2 separate regions of the Homo sapiens genome follow, and region 1 is linked to region 2. Evidence: fine-mapped expression QTL. A gene starts in region 2. The other region holds a variant in brackets. All regions are shown on one strand. Distances are between the middles of the regions. Region 1 overlaps VEZT (vezatin, adherens junctions transmembrane protein). Region 2 holds the start of VEZT (vezatin, adherens junctions transmembrane protein).

Region 1 (8,341 bases), 76 kb after region 2:
TCCACCTCATTGGGTAGGTAATTAAGATAAGCCATTTTCTAATTATTTTCTGTATGTGTGGCTTTTGCTTATAGATAATAATGATATGGATTAAGACACAAATAGTTCACAAACTTTTTTCACTAAAAAATTCACAGTGGCCATGACTACACAGGTTTAAATTTAAAAAATGTTCATTTGAATATTTTAAGAAGCAGGTACTTTAGTTAGCCATATCTTTTTTTAAAAAGGTCTTATTTTGAAATCATTTCAAACTTACAGAAAAGTTGCAATAGTTGAAAGTCTCCTTCATCAATATTCCCTAGTTGTTGACATTCTGTCACAATTGCCTTATCTATGTATGTATCTGTATGTGTGTGTAATTCTTTTGATGGTGGTGTTACTCTGAGCCATTTGAGAGTAAGTTGTAGACTTGAAGCCCCATTACCCCTAAATATTTCTGTATGCATTTTTGTAAAACAGGAACATTCTCCTGTGTACCCACAGTATACCATCAAAATCAGAAAATGAACACCAACCATGATATTGTCATTTTATCCACAGAACCCATTCAAATTTCCCTGATTGTCCCAATATTTTTTATATGTCTAGACCTAGATTGTGCATGGTGTTCAGTTGTCATGCTCTTTATTCTCCTTTTCCTTAAAGTCTTTCATGATAAATATTTTGTAAAGAAATACTCTGAGGTTTTATAAATATGCTTTCTTCATCAAAATTTTAACCACTATGAATGCATATACCATATGACCCAGTAGTATCATTCCTACGTATTTAACCAAGAAATATAAAAACTTAGTGTTCACACAAAAGCCTATACATAAATATTTTGTTTATAAACTAAAACTAGAAGCAGCTAGGCTTTGGGAGGTGACTAAGCTGTTACATCCATCCATACAGTGAAATACTACTCGGCAACAAAAAAAGTGAACTACCAATGCATACAACACGATGAATGAATCTCAATACATTATGCCAAGTGAAAGACATCACATTCAAACCACTACATACTATGTTATTCCACTTATGAGGTACTCTTAAGTTGGCAAAGGAACAGAAAACAGATCAGTAGTTGCAAGGAATTGGAGATGGAGGGAGGAATGGCTTGTAAAATCTTTTAATGGCAATGGCATTTAGAAACCAAGATTAGGGTACTTGGCTTTGGCGGCACATGTATTGAAATTAGAATGATACAGAGAAAATTAACATGTCCTTTGTGTAAGGATGATGTACAAATTCATGAATCATTCCATATTTTATATAGAATTTATATAAATATGTATGTATACACATATACATATATATACACATATATATCTACATATATATTGTGGTAAGCTCAGGAAATCATTGAGAATAGGTTATAACTTTGGCATTACTCGAGGATTACCATAGAAAAGAATCTCCAGTTAATAAAGTTTCCCATTGTTAAAAATATCACAGGCCAGGTGCGGTGGCTCATGCCTATAATCTCAGCACTTTGGGAGCCCAAGGAGGGAGGATCACTTGAAACCAGTAGTTTGAGACCAGCTTGGGCAATATGGCAAAACCCCATCTCTACCAAAAAAAACAAAAAGTTACTTGGGAGGCTGAGGTGGAAAGATTGTTTGAGCCCAGGAGGTCGAGGCTTCAGTGAGCCATGATTGCACAACTGCACTCCATCCTTGGTGACACAGTGAGACCCTGTCTCAAAAATATATGTGTGTGCGCATGTGTATGTGTGTGTGTCACATTATTTTAAAACGCTTCATATTTATTACCTCTAGGGCCTTGTTATTCAGAGTGGTCCCCAGACTAGCATATAAGCATCACATGAGAGCTTGTTACAAATGCACCCCTGACTTTAAATCCACCTGTATTTTAATAAGATCTGGTAGTTGCATCCACGTTAAAGTGTGAGAAATTTGAGAAGCATTGCTCTGGGATAAAGGTCTGCAATTTTTTTCCTCTAAAGATTTTCTGCCTTGCAGGCCATATGGTGTCTGTTACAACTACTTTACTCTGCTGTTGTAATGTGAAAGCACCCATAGACTATACTTAAATGAGTGTGGCTGTGTTCTAGGAAAAATGTATTTACAAGAACAGGCAGTGGGGCAGATTTGGCAAGCCCCTGCTTTCAGACAGTAGAATTGAGGGATAAGGTCTTCAGGGAGCTTTTTTCACTTTATAACCTTCTGTGCTGTTTGTAAAAGCTATTACTGCAAGCATGTAATTAAAAATCTGGTGGGTTTTTAAAATTTTTTTAGGCTTTTTGTGTTTGTTTGTTTTTGAGACAGAGTCTCACTGTGTTGTGCAGGCTGGAGTGTGGAGTGCATTGGCGCAATTTCAGCTCACTGCAAGCTGTGCGTCCCAGGTTCAAATGATCCTCCTGCCTCAGCCTCTCGAATAGCTGGAACTACAGCCATGCACCACCATGCCCAGCTAGTTTTTGTGTTTTTTGGTAGAGATGGGTTTTCGTCATGTTGGCCAGGCTGGTCTCCAACTCCTAACCTCAAGTGATCAGCCCATATCAGCCTCCCAAAGTGCTGAGATTACAGGCTTGAGCCACCACATCCGGCCTCTTGCTAGATTTTTGTTAAATGGATTGCATGCTGGAGCTAGCTCTCCAAAGATTGTTAAATATTCAGAAATTTGTGAGTCAGTTTAACATCATTGGTAGCTTAAAATTGGTCACAGTGGGTGCATTTACACCATGGGAACTGGAAATCAGGAAGTGCTGCAAATTGGGTGTTTTGTTTTGTTTAGAGCTGGATTGCCAGCACACTGTTTAATGTACCTGTTTATTGCTATTAATAATAGTCTTATGGATTTATTTGGTTTTTTTTCTTTTCATTCAAAGAACTCGATATATGGTGTCACCATTGATGTAATGAAATCTGTGTTCTGCTAATTAGGCAATAATGGCAGTTTTTGAGCATGTAATCTGTAGCAGGCACTTTTCATGTATTCTTTTTTAATCTTACAAGATAGTACTATTATTTTCACCACTGTTCTACAGATAACTGTAATTTTTTTTTTTTTTTTTTGAGACAAAGTCGCACTCTGTCGCCCAGGCTGGAGTGCAGTGGCGCGATCTCGCCTCACTGCAACCTCCGCCTCCCAAGTTCAAGCAATTCTCCTGCCTCAGCCTCCCAAATAGCTGGGACTACAGGCGCATGCCACCATACCCAGCTAATTTTTGTGTTTTTATTAGAGATGGGGTTTCACCATATTAGCCAGGCTGGTCTCAAACTCTTGACCTCGTGATCCACCCACCTTAGCCTCCCAAAGTGCTGGAATTACAGGTGTGAGCCACTGTACCTGGCCCTTTTTTTTTTTTTTTTTTTTTGAGACAGAGTCTTGCTCTGTTGCCCAGGCTGGAGTGTAATGATGCAATCTTGGCTCACTGCAACCTCCATCTCCCGGGTTCAAACGATTCTTCTGCCTCAGCCTCCTGAGTAGCTGGGATTACAGGTACATACCACCATGCCTGGCTAATTTTTCTATTTTTAGTAGAGATGGGGGTTTCACCATGTTGGTCAGGCTGGTCTCAAACTCCTGACCTCATGATCCTCCTGCCTTGGCCTCCCAAAGTGCTAGGATTACAGGCGTGAGCCACTGTGCCCAGCCAGTTAACTATAATTTAAACTAGAAAGCAGCAAGAGCTGGGATGTAACCCAGGTGTGACTAACTCTACAGCTCTTAGCCACTGTGCTATTCTGTCTCTCATTAGTGCTTCCTATTAATTTATTCATCGTTCTGCCATCTTGCCTACAAACTAATCAGTCATTTTTTGTAACATTTCCCAAATACTTCTTTATTTTAACCATTTAACTATTGTTACTTTTGAAAATTAAAAATCAACAAGTTTAAACCATACTTCTTTTTTTTAAGTAGAAAGATAATGATTAATGATAGCCACCTGGATATGAGACTAAGTAACCCTGTCATTAAATACCAAACATAAATTTTAAGAATTAATCAAAGTTAAACTCACTTGGGTGATCTTTAAAAGATATTTCCTTGTGAATTCATTTCCAATTCCAACCTCTGAGTGTTAAAATAGCCTCAGGGTAAGTTTGAAGTTTGTATTTTGTGAAGAAGAGTGATGGTCTGTCTTAAGACTGTTCCTATGCTGTGAATGATAATATTTTGTTCAACAAGTACTTACAGAGTACCTGGTGTGTACC[A/G]GATACTGTGAAGAGGTGAAGAGAGAAGGGCAGGTCCTCTTCTCCAAGAGTTTAAAGACTTAAAGTTAAGTTGTAAATCTACTAATTTATTGTTTTTCACTTTAATATCTTTATGTTTTTATAAATACAAAGTTATTAGAACAAGTTGGACTATGAAATTGACAAAGTATTAGTACCAAGGATTTTTTTGGTTGGGGGAGACAGGATCTAGCTCTGTTGCCCAGGCTGGAGTGCAGTGGTGTGATCACTGCTCACTGTAGTCTTGATCTCCCCAGCTCAAGCGATCCTTCCACCTCAGCCTCCCAAGTAGCTGGGATTACAGGTGTGCACCACCATGCCCAGCCAATTTTTATTTCAGTTTTTGTAGCGACAGAGTCTTTGTTTCCAGGCTGGTGTTGAACTCCTGGGCTCAAGCGATCCTCCTGCCTCAGCCTCCCGAAGTGCTGGGATTACAGGCATGAGCCACCACACCTGGCCCCAAGGGTGTTTTTAATTAGATGTTCACTCATTTCTGTGTGGTCTGTTTCTTATCTTTATTCCCATCTATTCCCGTTTTTTAAAGGCAAGCCTGAAATAGCATGTGAAAACCCACATTGTACAGTAGTACCTTTGAAGCAGCCTACTCTACACATTGCAGACAAAGATCCAATCCCAGAGGAGCAGGTAAGGGTGAAAATTACTGTTCTTTCCCTTGTTGGATTTCTGTTTCTAATGAGCTTCAAAATTACAACATAATATATTGAATTTATATCAGATCATTAGTTCTTAGTGCTTAACTCTGAATTCATTGAATCTGCCTGCAGACTTTTTTTTGATTGTTATTTATATCTAATTGTCTATATCTGAGTGGCTTTCAAAAGTGATTAAACACATTGAAAATTAGTACATTGGCAAAGCTACCTTTTGGGATGCTGGAAATGTGTTTATCTTGATCTGAGTAGCAGTTACTGGTATGTGTACATATGTAAAAATCCTGTGCACTTGACTGCATGTACTATGATATACCTCACTTTTAAAAACAATTTTTTAATGATCGCATTGGATATTGACAAAGGTTACTTTTGTTCATTGTAAGGAAAACCTCTTTTCCTTAGGTCATATTATCTATTCAGTATTTTTTTTCCGTGTATATTGCATAACAAGTTACTATTCAGTATTCTTAATTGCAAATGGAAACCAACCCTAGTTAGTTTAACAGACAGATACTTTATTTAAACTTTTAGGTAGCTTACAGAATATTTCAGAGAGCTAGATAAGCAGGCTTGAATGATGCTAGGGTAAACAGCCAAATCACTCAAAAGAACTGTTGCAATGGAACTATCATTGCTAAGTTAATGGGTGGAGACATTGCCCCTTGCTTCGTCAATGCTGAATAGTAAAACTTAACCTCCAGAAGTGCTACTTCAAGAAACATATCTGCAACATCCTGCCAGAATAGATTTTCCAAAGTGCTTGGTTCTTTTTTATATGAGACCGAGTCTCACTCTGTGGCCCAGGCTGGAGTGCAGGGGCGCGATCTCGGCTCACTGCAACCTCTGTTGCCCGTGTTCAAGCGATTCTCCTGCCTCAGCCTCCTGAGTAGCTGGGATTACAGGTGCCTGCCACCGCGCCTGGCTAATTTTTGTAGTTTTTAGTAGAGACAGGGTTTCACCATCTTGGCCAGGCTGGTCTTGAACTCCTGACCTCGTGATCCGCCTGCCTCAGCCTCCCAAAGTGCTGGGATTACAGGCATGAGCCACCGCGCCCGGCTGGTGCCTGCTTCTTTTATCTCAGACTTCTAAGTCCGATCTGATGCAGGTACGTCGATTAGAGAATCCCAGGTCATTTACCTGAGCCTATACTGTAAGGATACTGCTTGGGTAAGCAAGCATCCTACCCTCTCTGTCTTAGAGATAGGGAGAACCATAAGGTGGGGTGTTCCCTAATCCTAGGAAGAATGTTCAAACTTCCTGGGAAATCTGAAAGAACCACAAGAAAACAAACATGCCTGACCACCTCCCCAAAGTGCCAGCCCTTCTAATTTTGATTGGTTTTGATATAGCTAATGGCTGTAACACTAAGTGTATGGTATGTTACCAGAGTAGAAAAATAACTACTGAAGTTGTTAAACTTTTTTTATCCACAATGCTTTTTAGTATCAACTGTTAGGTTGTTTTTGAAGATTTCAATTTATCCATAGGTATATATTTGCTTTTTTCTTTTCCTAGCTCTGCTTTAATGACCTGTGCCAAATGCAAGTCCTTTTTTTTTAATCTCAGAGATAAGTAAGTGCAAGTAAATGAATGCTTACTAGAGAATTGTTTGCTTCAAGTAAAGTGCTTTTTCTTCTATTCATTTTCAGGAATTAGAAGCTTATGTAGATGATATAGATATTGATAGTGATTTCAGAAAGGATGATTTTTATTACTTGTCTCAAGAAGACAAAGAGAGACAGAAGCGTGAGCATGAAGAATCCAAGAGGGTGCTCCAAGAATTAAAATCTGTGCTGGGATTTAAAGCTTCAGAGGCAGAAAGGCAGAAGTGGAAGCAACTTCTATTTAGTGATCATGGTAAGCACTGACTTTAAAGTAACAGGTTATTTCAATGTAGGGGATTCTTTCTTTCTTGAACCATGAATGTTATTTTAGCTGAAGAATTCTTGGGGTTTTATAAGGGTCCACCAGTATGCATAGTACTTTTTCTTCTAGATGCTAAATCAATTTGATTAATAAAAGAGTAGGAATGTAACCACATTGGAAATATGAAGTCATACTTTTTTATGAGTTATTTAATTTTTTAGTAAATTTGTTTTAGAATGGGCAGTGAGTTGAATAATTTGGGATATTTTAAATGTTATTTTCAAATTTAGTGAATTTGAGATTCTCAACTCTGTTGTCCATATGTTAAAATATTTAAAAATACCTCAGTGAAGCACAAAATTAATAACTGTGCTCACATTGAAAAAAATGGCCCAGGCGCAGCGGCACATGCTTGTAATATCAGCACGTTGGGAAGCTGAGGCGGGTGGATCATTTGAGGTCAGGAGTTCAAGACCAGCCTGGCCAACATGGCGAAACCCCATCTCTACTAAAAATACAAAAATTAACAAGGCATGGTGGCGCGTGCCTGTAGTCCCAGCTACTCGAGAGGCTGAGGCAGGAGAATCACTTGAACCCGGGAGGCGGAGGTTTCAGTGAGCCAAGATCACGCCACTGCACTCCAGCCTGGGCAACAGAGGGAGACTCCATCTCAAAAAGAAAAAAAGAAAGAAAAGAAAAGAAAAGAAAAAAAAGGAATTAAAACCTAGACCAGTGAGCCACATCATTAGCATTATTTAAGTGGTTTGAGCACTTTAGTAGATGGGAGGGGAGCAGGGTGCCTGTGGGCGTACTCCCCATACTCTGATTTCAGCAGAGTGGGGTAGCTGGTAATACAAAAGCCTTACATTCCTTTCTGTTTCTCACCCTTCTTTTCTTAAGTCAAACTTCATGGGAGACAGGGAAGGAATCAGGGGAAGCTTAATACTTGACAGTATCAACCTAGCTAATTCTTAGTTGAATTAATGCCTATGGATTTCTAAGTAGGTAGAGTGTGGATTCTCTTCCATTTTACAGTATCTGTGTGGACCCTCGAAATCAACTGCCCTGCTTTTCCCTCCTCACTAGAAGTACATAGATTACCTATACTTCTGGAAAGTTCCTCCAGTTCTCTTTTTTTTTTTCCCCTCAGGAGCCCTATGTTTTCTCCTGTCCAGATCTGCATTTCTTGGTTTTATCATTCCTCTTTCTTCCCATTGGCCCCCTTTATAGCCCAGGTCCTCAGTAGATTATCCTTGTACATTAAAATACCTTCTTAGCTGACTTCCATTTTCAGTACTTTTTTCTTCTAAGCTATCTTGCAAACTCTTTGCAGATTTTTCTCCAACACTGCATTGATGATGGCTCTCTATCTTAAAACCTATAGTGGTTTCTCCCTTTCTTATTGTGTTGAATCTAAACTCTTTTTCCTGTTTTCAAGTCTCTTCATCATAAGAATTCATCTATCCAATTATATTTTCTACTGTTTTTACTATAGATATCTTCTTATGTTTATCGAATTAAACTACAGTTCACAAATGTGTTATTTTTATTCATGAAAAAAATTCATGCTGGCCAAGCACAGTGGCTCACGCCTCTAATTCCAACACTTTGGGAGGC
Region 2 (8,341 bases):
GTTCTAGTGTCACAGAAATTCAATTAACTACGTATGTGCTGGAGTTGATTCCCAATAAATATAGCAAAGTCCTATTACGTACATAAAACCCTCAACGCATACTCACTGAATTCAATTAATAACTGTGAACTTGGGCTTGCCATTGTTAGTTAACTGTGTATTGAAGGAAGTCACAGACATAACTCAGGGAGCTGGCTAACCTAATTGTGGGCCTTGTACAGACCTGGCTGCCTCACTTTCCTTCCTTATAAATGGGGGAGTTGAACAGGCCTCTAAAGCCCATAGGAATCTGAGATGATAACTTCTGAGACACTCATTTCAGAAGAACCTCATGTACTGTGGCCTCTGTCTCCTGCGTTGATGTTTTTTCAGTTCACCTTTGTCTGTGTTCAGCATAAGACACAAGCTCCAGAAGGGCAGGCACTTTGTCTCATTCACTGATGTATCCCAGTGCTAACAACAGGGCCTGGGAATAATCACAGCTGCCACATACACATACTCTTTAATATGTCTCCATAACAGAAAATTTCTTCTTTAAAAATAATCACATTCAAAAATGTACATCCATTTTAATGTAGAATAATATTTTGAAAAGTTAGCAGGAATCAATTTCAATACGATTATTGAAAAATTCCTTAATTATTAATAGGAACAAGTGTTCAACTAAGTCACTGGTAGAGCAATATCCAAAATCCTTCATTATTTTTTTTTCATGGCTCTATTTTGGAAGAAACACAACTCAAAAAATAATAAGCCATTATATTATGGTCTACTCCAATGTGAAATAAGTGCATGACATTTGGCAATAAATCTAGCACCTTTGGATCTTAATACTGCATCAACAGTCAGACCCAAAGCTTCTTAGAGCAAAGCAGCAAATCTTTTATTTACACAGCTGTTTGGCTCCAGGGAAATATAAGGTAAGAAAGTAAAGCACTAGTACCATTTTACTAACTATTACAAACATACTCGTCATCTGTTACACACAGATGGCTGTGGTTCACGTGTACACTCTCTGGCTACTGGACCAGCCAAAACGCAAAGCACAGACAATGAAGACAGTGACCTGTACATGTTCAAAAGGACACAAAATATATACCTATATATACCTATAATTCTCTCTCCTTTTTTCTTTTTTTTTTTTTTTTTTTGAGATGGAGTCTTGCTCTGTCACCCAGGCTAGAGTGCAGTGGCTCGATCTCGGCTCACCACAACCTCCGCCTCGCTGGCTCAAGCAATTTTCATATCAGCCTCCCGAATAGCTGGGACTACAGGCGCACCCCACCACACCTGGCTAATTTTTGTATTTTTAGTAGAGACAGGGTTTTGCCATGTTGGCCAGGCTGGTCTCAAACTCCTGACCTCAAGTGATCCACCCGCCTTGGCCTCCCAAAGTGATGGAATTACAGGCTTGAGCCACTGCGCCCAGCCTCTCCTTTTTCATATACAGCTTAAAATAATTCTGAAATCTCCACTAAGGGCAGATTATTTTATAGATGTAGAAAAACAAAGCAAGCTTTTCTGCTGGATACATATAACCTAGATGTTCTACAACATTCCTTTTATTTTCTTAAATTAAACCAACCCTTCCAAATACCACAGATTAGATTCAAAAGCAAAAATCCCCTCCCTTAACTTCAAGTAACTTTCCTAAACGTTTCAATGAATTTGACTATTGTTCCCAAAAAGCACCATAATCAGCTTGTAAGAACTATGTATACATATAAGAATGGGTAGAAATAAAACCCCAGTTCTCTTCCATATTCCCCATCTAGACACCAGAAAGAATTATGATAAATCCAACAGATGGGTGAGCAAAAAAGTAGTTGATGCTTCTCAGCCAGCAATGCTAAAAACCAACCAACTCGGCTAGACACAGGAAGTGTCCCACTTTAAACACCACAAAAATTTCTGTGGATTTCTTTAATTGTAAAGTTGATAAAATACAAAAATAGCTTGCATTATTTTAGGATAATTCAAATGCAAGAATCATGAACTTCCAGTCTGGGCCCTAGAAATTGGGTTTACATAAATGTGAAATTACATGCTTCTGTGCCTGTTCCTTATAAACTGTTAAGACTGGAATTGAAAACTGATACATATAAGACACGGTTATTTTAAATACATTTGACACCTCCAAAAAGGAAAGAGCTAAAACTGGCTGGAAGGATTTTAAAATTTCCAACCACTTTTAATTTAAATCAATTTCTTGAACGAAGGTAAGGCACAGAAATGTAGGATGAAAATAATTTACCTTATGTAAGTATAAAGCCTCCCTTTGGCAAAGAAAAGAGAGTTTATAAAGATATCTCATATAAGTGCATATAACATCAAAAAGGAAAGACCCACACAACACCCACTTCTTGCTTTCTTTTCCTATTGGCTAACTTCTTGTTTCGTTTGTTGTAATCTGATCACAGGGAGCAATGCAACACTACAATATATCTAGGCTTTAGAAATAATACAAATCAGAACATTTGAGTGCTGTTGGACAGTTTCAAGTTGCAAGAATTTTAAACAAATGCCAAGAAAAGCAATGAAAATTTAATCTGATACTTAAGTGCTGATTCTGGAAGTAACCTTGAGAAGAAGCTTTAAACTATTTCACTATAAAATTTCTAATGAAAGTTTCAACGTGGACAAAAACGTAAAATAACCCATAACACTCTACTTAATACATAAGTTCTGGTTTAAAAATTAACCTATGTACTTACGAAGTGAACGTAACACCACTTTGGTAATTATTTTGTAAAACAGAAATTGTTCCTTAAGAATGTTCAGAAACACAACGTCTAGAATTGCTGAAAATCCACACAAAGATAGAGGCTTTGTCATTTGGATGAAGGGGAAAGAACTATGGGAGGCAGACAGAAAATAAAGCTTTGTTTACCCTAATCAGGTAGAAACAAACAAAATAATTGTAATTGGGTGCAGACAAGCAAAAAAAAAAAAAAAAAAAAAACCTCAACAATCTCAACTCCTCTGCTTCTCAGGTAACAGAGGTAAAACCACCAGGACATGACAATGTCTACGCCTCTTTAAAATGGGTAAAAGGTTTACCAGCAGATACAAGGTTGAAAGCGACTCACTTAGTGGCCAAATTGAACACGCTGAGAACACTGCCTTTACCTATAATAACTGATCTATTAACTTGGGAATCTACACTATTTTCACATGCAAAGGCGAAGTCCTCGCACTGCTGGAGAGATGAGCGAACGCCCTTCACACATCGCATTTCACCTGGTGCAGAGCCCCCAGCACAGTCCCCCTTGGAAGGGAGATCCCGAGAAATCCCGGGTTTCCAAACAGCCCCTCTGGGCAGGAAAAGACGAGAAAGCCGGCAGCGAATCCCATTAGCTCCGCGCTTGCCGAGGTGCTCGGCAAAGGTACGGGGCACACAACTCGCCCACCCCGGCGAAGAAAGTTGCTCGCGAGCCCAAGCCTAGCAGCGCTCGCCACAAACTTTCCCGCGGCAGCGCGAGCGCCGTCACTTACCGGCTGCAGAAGTCATGATTCCCCGGTGCAGCTCGCTTCCCCGCTCGGCCCCTCAATCCATCTTCCCCTTTCAGTCCATTGTTCCCACAGTTCGGGTAGGAGAGAAAAGCCCCCGCAGCGCCCACATTCCGTCCCGCCGCCCCGCGGCGCAGCCTGAGCGCCACACAAAGGACGCGGCCGACTCTAGCGACCCTGCGGCGCTCCCGGGCGCGAGCCGCCGGGGTCGGGCGGGCGAGCACTAGCACCGCCCCGCAGAGCGGCAGGCTGACAGCCAGGCGCGGGCACGAGCAGTGCTCTCTTCGGCTCCGCTGGCGCGTGCCCTTCTCGGGCTCCAAAAATCAGCAGTGCTCCGGGCGCCCCCTGCTAGTCGCGGCCGTAAAAGGCAGACAAAAGCCCTAGCCTCCTCCAATCGGAGGGCTCGAGCTTCAGCTCGCTCCCGCCTCTCTCGCTTACACGCTCACTCTCTTCTCCAATAAGCGGGCTCGAAAAGGGGGCGTGAGCGGCGAGGCATATTGGGAATTGTAGTTTTCTGGACCCACGGGACGGGCAGGAGCTGGAGCTCCGTGCCGCCTGTACTCCCGCCTTCATTTCCCATCGTGCTGAGGCGGGTGGCATGGCGGAGAAGGATGACACCGGAGTTTGACGAAGAGGTGGTTTTTGAGGTAAGAGGAAAATGGCGGTGGGTGTGGATTGCCTTTGTTTGAGAAGGACGAGACGGAAATCGAGGAAGCAAGGCGTTCCCGGGGCGAGGGATCGGGTGACGCGCTCCAGCTGGCCTCGACCACCGAACCCCAGCGATTTCAGGGCCTAGAGTCCGTCGTCGCCTGACAGGTGTAGCCAGAGGCGCCCTGGCCGTGGCCGGCCTCTATCTCGGGCCCGCCCAGAATTCCCAGACGGTGCCCGGTTGCCAGGCTCTGGGCTGGAGCGGTGTCTCTTCCTTCCTGGGAATGGATGTGCGGCGGGGGGGACTGCGCCCGGCTGGGGCGGGGCCGAATCGTGCCTTTTAGATAGTCACAACTTAGCCTCCTCCTTTTCCATCCGCGATTTTTTTGGGTCAGTATCCAGAGTGCTTCAGGTCACTGTTCACCGTCAAGGCGTGGCCCTCGGAATGAAGGCAGCAGGTGCCCGTTTTCTAACACGGTTTAAAGTCTATTTGTGGGACCTACTGTGGGTAGTTAGGGCCAGGGCATCTCAGCATCTAGATTCGATTCTTTTGTCCTTTGCTGTTGCGCTAGGTGTAGCCAGTTCTTCTGACTCGGGGCTCTAGATGTGAGTGCTTTTGTGTGGGACTATTTTAAGACGTTCTCTGCCATCTTGAATGAAAAAAATCGGGCGAGTGTTTTTGATGCCATTTTTTTCCATCAGACACAGGTCAAAACTCGCACCCCTGTACGTATGTGTATTGCATGTATACGCTTTACTTTCATTTATCCAACTAGATTTTAAGAAAATTTAAAAATGAAGTGGCCCATGCCATACAGCGAGAGAGCGAGGCACAGACAGGACAGAATGCTAAATGTTGAAATATGTACAAACTGTCATTGAAGGATTAATTTCTGTTCTTGCGGCCTCCCAGAGGCTACACCCAGTACGCGATATCCGAGGTGAATCTTTAACTATGAATTGGATTAGAAAAACCGGCAGGAGAAAATGTATTACAGGGAAAGAGAACTGATTATGCCAAGCTTGGGAAGTGTGAAAGTACCTGGTGTGCATTTTTAGGGGGCGGGGTGTGGAGGGTGGCTATGTAAAGTGGCTTGATGTGGCTGCAATGAAGAAGCAGTGGAAAATGTGGCCATTTTACCGAAGTGAAGAGTCTAGATATGAGGCGTTCATTAGGGAAGACAAGGGCCTGAGATGAAATGAGAGACGTAATGGAATAATGGCTTGGACAGACACTTGTAAGTTAAAATCGAGGCAATGTTTATAGATTGAATGTGGTAGCTGAAGGAGAGAGAAATATTTTCTAGAGTAAGGGTAACTGATGGGTGTATTTTTTTTACCCATTATTTTTGATTTCTGAATATAATAGTAATATATGCTCAAGGAACATTTTATTGTAGAAAATAAGCCCCCAAGTTAAAATCATCCATTATCCCACCACCCAAAGATGGTAACTATTAACAGTACGGTATGTGTTCTTATAGACTTTATTTCTATGTAAATGTGTGTTTATGTGTGTGTAATTTTTTAGCCTCTATATTAAGACACAATGTGTGTGTGATATTTTTTAAAACAAAAGGTATACCACGTAGAATTTTGTATATATTTTTCACTTGACTTTATCGTGAATCTTTTCCCATTCATCATTCTCTGAAAACATTAATATTATAATATCCCCTCACGTGTATCATAATATAACCTTTTTTTAAAAAAATACCATTGTAATCAACAGTGATATAAGCCTATTTTTAACTACAACTCTGATTTTCCTCAGAATAATTTTTAGAAGTAGAACTAGTGGGTGAAAGAATATGAACATTTAAGACTTACGCAGAAAGGTTATACCAATTCCGGTTTCCATTAAGAATAAGAGAGTATTGGTTTCACCAAATCCTCAACAACAGCCTTAACAGTTTCCTTTAATCTTTGCTAATTTGATAGGCAAAAATAACATTCCATTGTTTTAATTTACATTTTATGCATTTATACATTTATTAGCTATTTTTATTTCTTTGAACATTTCTCTTCATATTTGTTGCTCATTTTCTTATTAGATGCTAGCTTTAAAAAAATTGACTTGCGTGAGTTCTTCATATATTACTAAGCCTTTGTCATACTTGCAGAAAAATTTCCAGTTTGCTGTTTGTTTGCTCTTTGATATACACAATTTTTATTGCAGTATAATTTACATAAGGACAGGGCACAGATCACAAGTGTGTGGATGGTTATATTTTCACATGTTGAGCACACCCATGTAACCAGCACCCAGATCAAGAAACGGGACAGATGGGGCATGGTGGCTCACACCTGTAATCTCAGCACTTTGGGAGGCTGAGGCAGATGGATCCCTTGAACCCAGGAGTTTGAGATTAGCCTGGACAACATGGTGAAACCCTATCTCTACAAAAAAGACAAAAATTATTTGGGCGTGGTGGCACATGCCTATAGTCCCAGCTACTCGGGAGGCTGAGGTGGGAGAATCACTTGAGCCTGGGTAGGTCAAGGCTGCAGTGAGCCATGATCGCACCGCTGTACTCCAGCCTGGATGACAGAGCCAGACTCTGCCCCAAAAAAATAAAAAATGAAAAAAGAAACAACATCACCAGCACACCAGAAGCTCCCTCCTGGTCCTTTCCATCACTACTCCCTACCCCAAAATGATCACTATTTAAACATAATAACCTAGATTAATTTTGTCTATTTTTATTGTTTAGACACTGTGCATTTCCATTTATATACTCTCTTATTTCTGACTTTTTTTTTTCCTCTCTGGCTTTATTTGTGAGATTCGTCCATATTGTTAACATGAGAATTTTTATTTTGGCATAGTATTCCATGTGAATATATGATCATTTTTAAATTCATTCTTCTATTAATGGTCATTGAGTAGTTCCCAGGTTTAAACTAGTGCTACTGTGAACCTTTTTGTATGTGTTTGGTTAAACATATTTCTGGTGGATATATATGTAGGAATGGAATTGCTGGGTCATAGCAAATACCTAGATATTTCTGTAGATATTGCCAAACTTTATTCCAAAGTGGTTGTACCAGTTTATTCTCCAGCCAGGAATGTATGAGAGGTCCCATTGCCCCACATCCTCATCAACCCTTGCTAATTTTAGTGTTTTTCTTTTTATGATTCTAGGGGCTATGTCCTGGTATCTCCTTGTGGTTTTAATTTGTATTTTCTTGATAAAGATGTTAAGATTTTTAATGTGTTTATTAGCCAATTGTATATCCATTTTGTGAAGCCACGTCAAATTTCTTGCATATTTTTCTATTGGGTTGTTTCTTTTTCTTGCTGATTTGAAGGAATTATTTACATACACTGGATACAAGTCCTTTGTTAGAGATGCAGTTGGCCCTCCTTAGCTGAGAGTTCCACATCTGCAGATTGGACCAACCGTGGCTCACGCCTATAATCCTAGCACTTTGGAAAGCTAAGCCAGGCAGATCACTTGAGGCTAGGAGTTTGAGACCAGCCTGGCCAACATGGCGAAACCCAGTCTCTACTAAAAAATACAAAAACTAGCTGGGCATGGTGGCATGCACCTGTAGTCCCAGCTACTCCAGAGGCTGAGGCATGAGAATCGCTTGAACCCAGGAGGCGGAGGTTGCTCTGGGTGACAGAGTAAGATTCCATCTCAAAAAAAAAAAATAAAGGAAATACTCTGGCCCAGTGAGGTGGCTCATGCCTGTAATCCCAGCACTTTGGGAGGCTAAGGTAGGAATATTGCTTGAAGCCAGGAGTTTAAGACCAGCCTGGTCAACATTAACAAAACCCTGCATATTAAAAAAAAAAAAGAAAAAAATTAACCAGGTGTGGTGATGCATGTCTGTAATGCCAGCTACTCCACAGCCTGAGGCAGAAGATTGCTTGAGCCCAGGAATTTGAGGCTGCAGTGAGCTACAATTCCAGCCTGGGTGACAGAGTGAGACCATATCTCTAAATAAATAAATAAATACTCAAAAATATTCAAAAAATAATACAAATAAAAAAACTATACAGGATAACAACTATTTACATAGTGTTCACATTGTATTAGGTATTACAAATAATCTAGAGATGATTTAAAATATGTGGGAGACTGTGTGTATGTTATATGCAAATACTATGCCATTTTATATAAGGGACTTGAGCATCCATGGACTGGGTATTTGCCCTAGTCCTGTGACCAATTCC

The links. PIP is the estimated chance that this variant, and not a neighbour inherited with it, causes the effect.
Region 1: its variant is fine-mapped to the expression of VEZT in whole blood (TOPMed, PIP above 0.99). The same link has a PIP of 0.9 or more in CD4 T cells, Th1/17 cells, blood mononuclear cells, esophagus muscle, follicular helper T cells and liver.

The regions. Positions count from the first base shown.
Region 1 is chr12:95,289,544-95,297,884 of GRCh38, forward strand. It overlaps VEZT (vezatin, adherens junctions transmembrane protein), which reads left to right. Exons shown (of 12, transcript NM_017599.4): 10 at 4,729-4,829; 11 at 6,508-6,715. It also overlaps the pseudogene RNU6-808P. Among named protein-coding and RNA genes, the nearest start is that of MIR331, 15 kb to the right of the region's middle. The variant A/G (reference allele first, on the strand shown) is at 4,167.
Region 2 is chr12:95,213,730-95,222,070 of GRCh38, forward strand. VEZT (vezatin, adherens junctions transmembrane protein) reads left to right here and starts at 4,078. Exons shown (of 12, transcript NM_017599.4): 1 at 4,078-4,157. The coding sequence starts at 4,122. FGD6 (FYVE, RhoGEF and PH domain containing 6) reads right to left here and starts at 3,738. Exons shown (of 21, transcript NM_018351.4): 1 at 3,496-3,738. The coding sequence starts at 3,511. RefSeq lists enhancers at 241-320, 3,402-3,996, 3,997-4,592, 4,057-4,296, 4,897-4,946 and a silencer at 3,597-3,826.